Regions from separate parts of the Homo sapiens genome. Here region 1 is linked to region 2. A link means that fine-mapping ties the variant in region 2 to the expression of a gene that starts in the linked region. Tissue or cell type: monocytes after LPS. Region 2 holds a variant in brackets; the other region holds the start of a gene. All regions are shown on one strand. Distances are between the middles of the regions.

Evidence for each region. PIP is the estimated chance that this variant, and not a neighbour inherited with it, causes the effect.
Region 1: it holds the start of PICALM, and the variant in region 2 is fine-mapped to the expression of PICALM in monocytes after LPS (Quach 2016, PIP 0.95). The same link has a PIP of 0.9 or more in monocytes.

Annotation. Positions count from the first base shown.
Region 1 is chr11:86,067,251-86,071,250 of GRCh38, reverse strand. PICALM (phosphatidylinositol binding clathrin assembly protein) reads left to right here and starts at 2,167. Exons shown (of 20, transcript NM_007166.4): 1 at 2,167-2,600. The coding sequence starts at 2,471. It overlaps LOC124902731 (a long non-coding RNA gene), which reads right to left and starts at 1,327. Exons shown (of 2, transcript XR_007062823.1): 1 at 1-1,327. RefSeq lists silencers at 1,653-1,922, 2,073-2,242, 2,383-2,432, 2,503-2,552 and enhancers at 1,178-2,377, 2,117-2,818, 2,819-3,521.
Region 2 is chr11:86,136,700-86,141,051 of GRCh38, reverse strand. No RefSeq gene overlaps it. Among named protein-coding and RNA genes, the nearest start is that of LINC02695, 55 kb to the left of the region's middle. The variant G/A (reference allele first, on the strand shown) is at 1,851.

The DNA of each region.
Region 1 (4,000 bases), 70 kb after region 2:
ATTGGCCATGGTGAGTTGGCATCTGTGGAACTTCAGGTAGAGATATTTCCTGAATAGACCAAGGAAACTGACACAGAAAACTTAAGCATATAAGACAACATAGGTCAGTAATGTCTACCCTTAGAACAATTCCCCATCTTCTTTTAAATTTCTCCATATATTTCAGTTCACAACCACACATAAACCTCTTCAATGATTACTGATTATTTACATAGTTAGAAATTCTACTATGTATACTTGGAAAAAAATAAAATATTTCTAACAGCAGCTTGTTTGTTAATAGGGTAAACATGTCAACAATTATTGTCACAAAAGTGGTCTGAAAGAACCTCTTTGGTAAAAGTAATAGTGTAATACTTTCCTGTTATGTACTTAGGAATGACTGGCATTTTCCCTAAGGATAAAATATTCAGCTGTTGATAGCTAGACCATGTTAGTGTTGACCTCAGATTGGGGTTTACCAATGCAGAGGCTCAGGCCAATCAGTAACTTATACAGTGGAACCCATAGACCAGTAGCAATGATGGCTGATAACATGTCTTGAGAATTTGGTAATTCCACTGCCCAGTGGACGTGGGGCAGCAAACTGGGCACCAAACCACAGATGGATTGCAGTACACTGAAGGAATTCATTATAGTTTTGTGAAATTGGAGGCTGGCTTGACAAAGATGAAGCCTGCTGGGATTAAAAACTTGTGTGTTCTTGGCAAGAGCATGTTGCTGCAGAATTTCACCAGCCATAGTGGGGAAAAAAGAGGGGTGAGGGGGCGTGGGGAAAATGGGAGACCACAAAATTCCTGATATGATACATAAAATGTTAAATATCTATCAGCTTTGCATCCTTTGAGAGTCACCAGATTGAAGCACAGTATTTTGGATTTGGCTGGCAGATGGTGTACACAGACTTTCTGAGAATGTTAGCATTTCATTTGAAACTAGCAAGATTACATGTGACTATCATGGTAACTTAGCACTCACATATTTTTCAACTTATCCCTAACCCTGGGTTGAATGTAGAGGCTCTAATAACATATAAAAGGCTTTGTTAATGTATGGTCTGGGTCTCATTGAATAGTATTTCAGGATGTAATACTTCTTTTAAAATGTCCACAGGGCAGTGTCAACGTCTTTCCATGGAAATCTGGCTCACCCAATAAGAGAAAAGAGGCCAAAGGTAAGAAAGACTAAACCAGGGGAGATGGCAGGCAGTGATGTCTGGACTGTTTGAATGGGACTTCTCCATTTACCGCCCCTCTCACTTCCTTCTATGGTCTGGACCTTTAATCACCACAGCAGTCAGCCATGTAGGGTCAAGCTAATCGCTGTTGACATCATCCTACTACTTCCCTTTTCAAATTCCAGTGAAGCTATGTGTTTCCTGTCCTATTCCACACCCTAGAGAATGAATACCGGCCAGCTAGTATCTAAATTTAGAATGGCAGCAACGTGTCGGGTTTTCGGAGTAGAGATAAACAAAACCAGGTGACATTTCCAAGCCTCTCAAGGAAAGGGGGGAAAAAACCTTTCTGGGGTAAGTAAATAAGGAGAGCTTCAATAGTTCCATGGTAGAGAGAGGCCTGCTGGAAGGTTCAGAAAATAGGCCGTTTGGAACCTTCTCCTTTAAGCCAGGAGGGCGGCTTTGGGAGGCGTCTTGAAATACATTCTTGACTCTGCTGGGAAAGCTCGGGGAGCCAGAGGCCTAATACCCCCCACTTCAGGGGAAGCTGTGAAGGCAGCTGCACCTCCTTTGTCAAGCTGTTGGTTTCAACCACAGACACGAGGACACACTTGAGGTGGGGGGATAAGGGGAGAAGCCTGCCGCCCCGCCCCACCCCCGCCAGCACACCGCCCTCGCCATTCCTCTCCCGCCCCGCCCCGCCCGGCGTCTGTGACCCCGCGGGCCGAGCCTCAGGCGACCTGTTGGCAGGGAGAGTCACGTGATGCGCCGGCTGTGCACTCCCCTCGGGCGGGCCTCCTGTTGCGCCCGCCTGGCGAGTTCCATCACGTAACGCGCGGGCGCCGCCCAGCTCTTCCCTCGCTGAGCGAGGGAGGGCGGGCGTCGAAGAGGAAAGGGAAGGGGAAAGGGGCGGGAGAAGGGAGGAGGGGCGGTGTCCGAGTCACGTGACCCGGGGCAGCCCGGAAAGCTCCGAGGAGGAGCCTGGCGCCGCCATTTTCCTGCAGCTGCCTGTTCCTCTTACCCTGCCCGGCTCCAGCTGACCCGGGAAGGGGTGGGCTGAACTGAGGCGGGGGCAAGGGAGTGCCCGACATCTTGTCCGACTCCGCGGGTGACACGAGCCGGTTCTCTCTGGACTGGTGGCAGCGCGCGGCCCCGAACCGCGCCCCAGGCCGGCAGGCGGGGAAGGAGCCGGTGGGGGTAGGGGGTGCGGTGGGGGGTGGGGACCCTCCGGCTCTTGGGGGTCCCAGTCCCCGCCGGCTGCTGAGCGGGTGGGGTGGTGGAGGAGCTGCAGAGATGTCCGGCCAGAGCCTGACGGACCGAATCACTGCCGCCCAGCACAGTGTCACCGGCTCTGCCGTATCCAAGACAGTATGCAAGGCCACGACCCACGAGATCATGGGGCCCAAGAAAAAGCACCTGGACTGTGAGTGAAGCCGACCGCGGCCCCCGCTCCCCGGCGCCCGCGCGACCCGCGCGCGTCCTTCTCTCTCTCTCTTGTCTTTCACCCTTCTACTGCCTCTTCCCTCCCTGCGTCTTCTCTGGCACGGCCGGTCCTGTGCCCGTTGAGCTGTGTTCTTTTGCTTCCATCACACCTGCCTTCACGGCCTCCGCTCCCCGTCTCAAAATCTGACAAGCCACTCCCCTCCCTATTCCTAGGGGACCCTCGTCTCCCTGCCCGGTGCGCTACCACACCCCATCATACCCAACCAACTTGCTTCCCCACCTGGCTTCTCACCCCCTACCCGTCTCCACTGCAGCCTTCTGCTCTTCCTTCCCACCCGTCCGGTGCCGCCTCGTCGCCCTCGTCTGAGCGTCTCCAAGCCCCATTGTTTCTTCATCAGCCTCCTTCGGGTTTCAGTAAACGCCTGGTTCCTTGCATCCAGATCCTTGTTATCCCTCCGGGCTGCCTCCCTGGAAGGGATCCCCCACTTCCTTTGCTCCACTAGCTGCTTCGCCCATCCCTTCCTGGCTTTCTGTTCCACCTTCCCTCCTGCTTTTGGGTTACCTTTTCATCGCCTCTATAGTAGCTTCAGTGTAGTTTCTTCGACTCATTTTAAATACCATACCCAGTTACCCGACTTTTATTTCAGATTACCTTCTTTGTGGGAGTGAAAGTAAAAGGATTCAATTTGGTGTAGGGAAAGCTTTCTGGAAAGTTGGGATTTTTATTTGCCTCTGGTGGAATTTAATCGTTGTGTTGTCCATACTTTTGACTGGGGTGAGTTTGTGACTGTCAGCTCTGCCCCCCAGCTTTTCACATGGGGATATGGAAAAAGGCATTTTGCTGATACTCTTATCAGTTCCTGGAACTGTTAATTCTGGCGGCTTGAATTCAGAAGCTTGAGTGTTAAGCGTAGACTGTTGGAATTCCAAATGGATTAATAAATTTACTTACAAATAACATACATCCCTTAAAAAAATTGGCAAAATGATGTTTGATGATGCTTGAGTTTGGATGTTTTAATTATGCCAGTTACCTTTTGAGGAACTAGCTTTAGCTTCTCTTACACGACATAGTATTCGTCCATTCGCTAACGTAGATACAATTAGTAGAGCTAACTCCTCGTAACTTTTTTCTAACCTGGAAGTCACCTGTAATACCCTCCTTTTTCTTTGCGCTCTTTTACCCCAGGGTACAAAGCTCATTGGATCACTCAAGCCAATGGAGCTTAGACCTGAAACTTTTCAGGGAAAAATAGGGCAATAGTCACGATAAGTAAGTTCCCTTTTTAAATGACTGGACACATTAGTCTGACTGACTTTCATCATACATGAAAGTTACTTTGTTTTACTGTTTGAAGCAAGAGTGAGCATGCCCTGAAA
Region 2 (4,352 bases):
GAGGGATGGGCCACTGCAAGGCAGGCAGCTCCAAACGTGATGGAGCCTCAGGTTATGCTTCCTGGTGCTGGAGTGCTTCATGGGGCTGGAGTAACTCGGCCCTAATTCCCTCATCCATCTTTTTTCTTATTGCTAAAGCAGTTCCAGAAGGCAAATATGGAGATCTGGGACCCACAAGCCTAAAATGATAAAGAAAAGAAGAGAACCAGGGGTGGCGTCAAGATTAGAAGCTGGTTTGCTGCCAGAGCTTTGCTTCCTTTAATGCACTCGCCCACACTCTCCCTGTTTTTCAAAGACCAACTGCAGGCTTGACTCCTGCAGCCATGTCGGTGCCACTAGGCCTTGGTGCCGAATAAATAAAACTAGAGGGAAAAAATACAGTTGTCTGAGGACTGGGGATGGCTGGGAGCATCCAGCTTAGTGTCAAACTGAGGAAATGGTAGGATGGGAATCGATATGTAATCGAGAGAACAGATCTCCCGTGGACACAGACACCACCCTGATCTGAGCCTCATTTCAGTACTGCAGGCCTGGGTAGAGTCAGCTGACCCCAAAAGCACTGTGCTGGAGAATAGAGAATGACTGTCATTCTATGATGCCTTCTGAATATCGCTGCATAGACAGCATGCACTCTTTATAACAGCAGAAAGAGACATAAAAGAGACAAGGGTGGGGAGAGCAAATGTAAAAATATGAGAAATTATGCCCCTCGTCTTTAATTTTTATTATTATTATTTTTTTGAGACAGAGTCTTGCTCTGTTGCCCAGGCAGTAGTGCAGTGGCATGATTATGGCTCACTGCAGCCTCAAACTCCTGGGCTCCAAAGATCCTCCTGCTTCAGCTTTCTACATAGCTAGGACTACAAGCGTGTGCTACCACACCCAGTTAAATTTTTTTTTGTTTTTCCATTTTTTGTAGAGACGAGGTCTCACTACATTCCCCAGGCTGGTTTTGAACTTCTGGCCTCAAGCGATCCTCCTTGGCCTTTTAAAGCACTGGGATTACAGGCATGAGTGACCACACCAGGCCTTTTTTTTGAGACAAGGTGTGGCTCTGTTGCCCAGGCTGGAGTGCAGTGGTGCGATCTCGGCTCACTGCAACCTCCGCCTCCTGGGTTCAAACCATCCTCCCACCTCAGCCTCCCAAGTAGCTGGGATTATAGGCATACACCACCATGCCTGGCTAATTTTTGTATTTTTGATAGAGATAGGGTTTTCCCATGTTGCCCAGGCTGCTCTCCAACTCCTGGGCTCAAGTGATCCTCCTGCCTTGGCCTCCCCAAGTGCTGGGATTACAGGCATGAGCCACTGTATCCAGCCCTCCGGCCTTCATTTTTAAAAAGAATAAGTTTTATTTTTCTTTCTAATTACAAAAACAACATATACTCATGGTAGACAATCTAAGAAATACAGAGACCTAAAATAAATAATCAACTGTAATCCCACTAACCACTGTTGCTATTTGATGAATATTTGAATATTTACTGAATGCTGACTGTCTGAGGCACTCTAACAATCCTAAGGCTCAGGTAGTAAAATTATTCCCCTTTAATTAATGAAAGAACTGAGATTCAGCGAGGTTAAGATTTGCCTAAAAACACACAGCTGATACGTGGTAAAGCCTGGATTTGAACCTGGTTCTGTATCCCAATTTTCTCACAATATTTTATTTGTCTTGATCTACCAAGATTTGTCTTGGTATTTGTCTTGATACCAGAGATGATGGTACATCATCAAACAATCCCAATTTTCAAATGGGAAATACTTCAAAGCAAAAAGATACTGCATGAAGATGTTTCAAAAATGCGTTTTGTCTTTCAGGTCTTGTCACAGTTATTGCAATTTTGTAA[G/A]ATCATTCATTGCGAAAGTGGTGTTTTGATTCTTTGCCCTTTCCGGCAACAAAAACAGAAAGCGACTTCCCTTCTATCATTTGGCCTGAGGCTTCTTTCTGCTTCTGCCCAAGGCAGACTGTGGTTAGCACTCAGTGCTTAACCTCTTCCTCCTGCATGTCCCTCTGAAGTAATACATTTTTGTTTTGACACTTTGGATATACTGGACCCTAAAAATCAAGCCAATAAGGAGCAGCCCAGAAAGGAAGAGAGTGCCATAGTCTCACCTGTGTTTTAGGGAGGTTAGTTTTGTAGCCGTGCAAGGGCTGGCTTGATTAGGAGATCTTAGACTCAGAGAAATTGGTTATCACTTTTAAAAAATGAACAAATGACATGGGTAACAACCTTACCCCATTCATAAGCTTCACCATCTCTCACCACATCTCTGTGTCCAGCCCCATTCCTGAATTCCTCATCTGACCCTCATTTCATCCTGACATTAAGGAGATTATCTACACAGATTATTTGATGATTTTTTAAAAGCTGAAAATTTAATAATTTATTCTTTACAGTAATGAATTAAGTCTGAACACTGAAATATCACTGGCACTAAAACTACCTCAGTAAAACATCATGTACCCAATACCCAATCCTGACTACCCAGTTTTGTTCCCCAGCCAGTCTAGCCCTGACAGTTTTAGACACTTCCTGCACATTCTCCACCATTAACCAGCTCTAGCTCCTCCTGGTAACTCTACAGTGGCTCTCAAGATAGAATTGTCATTAAATGTGGAAACTTTGGTTATCTTTATTTTTATAATTATTTATTGATTGATTTATTTTTTGAGACAGAATCTCACTCTTGTCATCCAGTCTAGAGTGCAGTGGCACAATCTTGGCTCACTGCAACGTCTATCTCTGGGTTCAAGCAATTCTCCTGCCTCAGCCTCCCCAGTAGCTGGGTTTACAGGCATGTGCCACCATGCCTGGCTAATTTTGTATTTTTAGTAGAGATGGGGTTTCACCATGTTGGTCAGGCTGGTCTCAAACTTCTGACTTCAGGTGATCCACCCGCCTCGGCTTCCCAAATTGCTAGGGTTACAGGCCTGAGCCACTGCATCTAGCCAGAGATCAATTTTTAAAAATTCTGCATATGAGTGAGAACGTGTTGTGTTTGTCTTTCTATGTCTGGCTTACTTCACTTAACATGTTTTCCAGATTCATCCATGTTGTTGCAAATGGCAGGATTTCGTTATTTCTTACGGCTGAATAGTATTCCATTGTGGTATATATATACATATATATATATCACATTTTCTTTATCCATATTCATCCATTGTTGAACACTTAGATTGATTCCATATCTTGGCAATTGTCAATAATGCTGTAGTAAACATGGGAGTGCAGATATCTCTTCAATTTACTGATTTCATTTCCTTTGTATATATACCTAGTAGTGACATTGTTGGATCACATGGTAGTTCTATGCTTAATTTTTTGAGGAACTTTAATACTGTTTTCCATAATGGCTGTGCTAATTTAAGCAGTGGTAACTTCGGAACCAAGCTGTCTGAATTCAAATCCCACCTTTACCAGTTTGCATGTGACTTTGGGCAAGTTAATTACCCCATGCCTCAGTTTCCTTGTTTACAAAATGGAGAAATAGTATCTATTTTATAAGGTTGTTGTGAGATCAAATACTTGTAAAGCTATTGCTTGTAAAGCTCTTAGAATATGGCCTGGCATATTGTAAGCACAGTGTAAATGTTAGCTATAAAGACAAATGGAGTCATCTGTCCATCTTGTCATCTCAAGGGTCAGTGGTCAAGATATATTTCTTAAAAATTATTTTAAATTTTAATGGTTTTCCTATTTTATTTATCGGCATTGCAGAGTAATTTTGTTGCACATGCACAGTAGTTTGTTTACAAATTATACATCAAATAGATTTGTATGGGCTTGTCTAGAAATCTTAACCATTTATAACATTGTGTGTCATATACATATCTCTATCTATCTAAATTTATATTTGTATGCACACACACAAAACACTTTTTGCAGTAGATTTTTGGACACAGATTTTATGAACTATATCCAGCTTATTTTATAAATTTATTTTTCTTCTATGTATTTTTCATTTTCCAGAGGTTGGGCTCACAAAGCATTGTCAAGACTTGAGGTGGCCTTGAATAGCATGCTAGAATTTTGTATTTTATTCCCTGCGTTATAAGGATATGCCCAGAAAGGAAGAGAGGGCCATAGTGTAACCTGTGTTTTAGGGAGGTTAGTTTTGTAGCAGTGCAAAGGCTGGCTTGATAATGAGGTCTTGGAGTCAGAGAGATTAGTTAAAAGGCAGTTAGAATAACTCAGTCTGAGAACCTCAATTAATGTGCTGGACAAGAGGGAATACATGTAAGAATAATCTGGGGATAGAATCAAGAGGACTCAAGAGTGCAGTGGTGAAATGGTGGAGAGAATTCCAAAGGCTTTCAGTTTCGGTTGATGAGAGGCCGGTGAAACCAT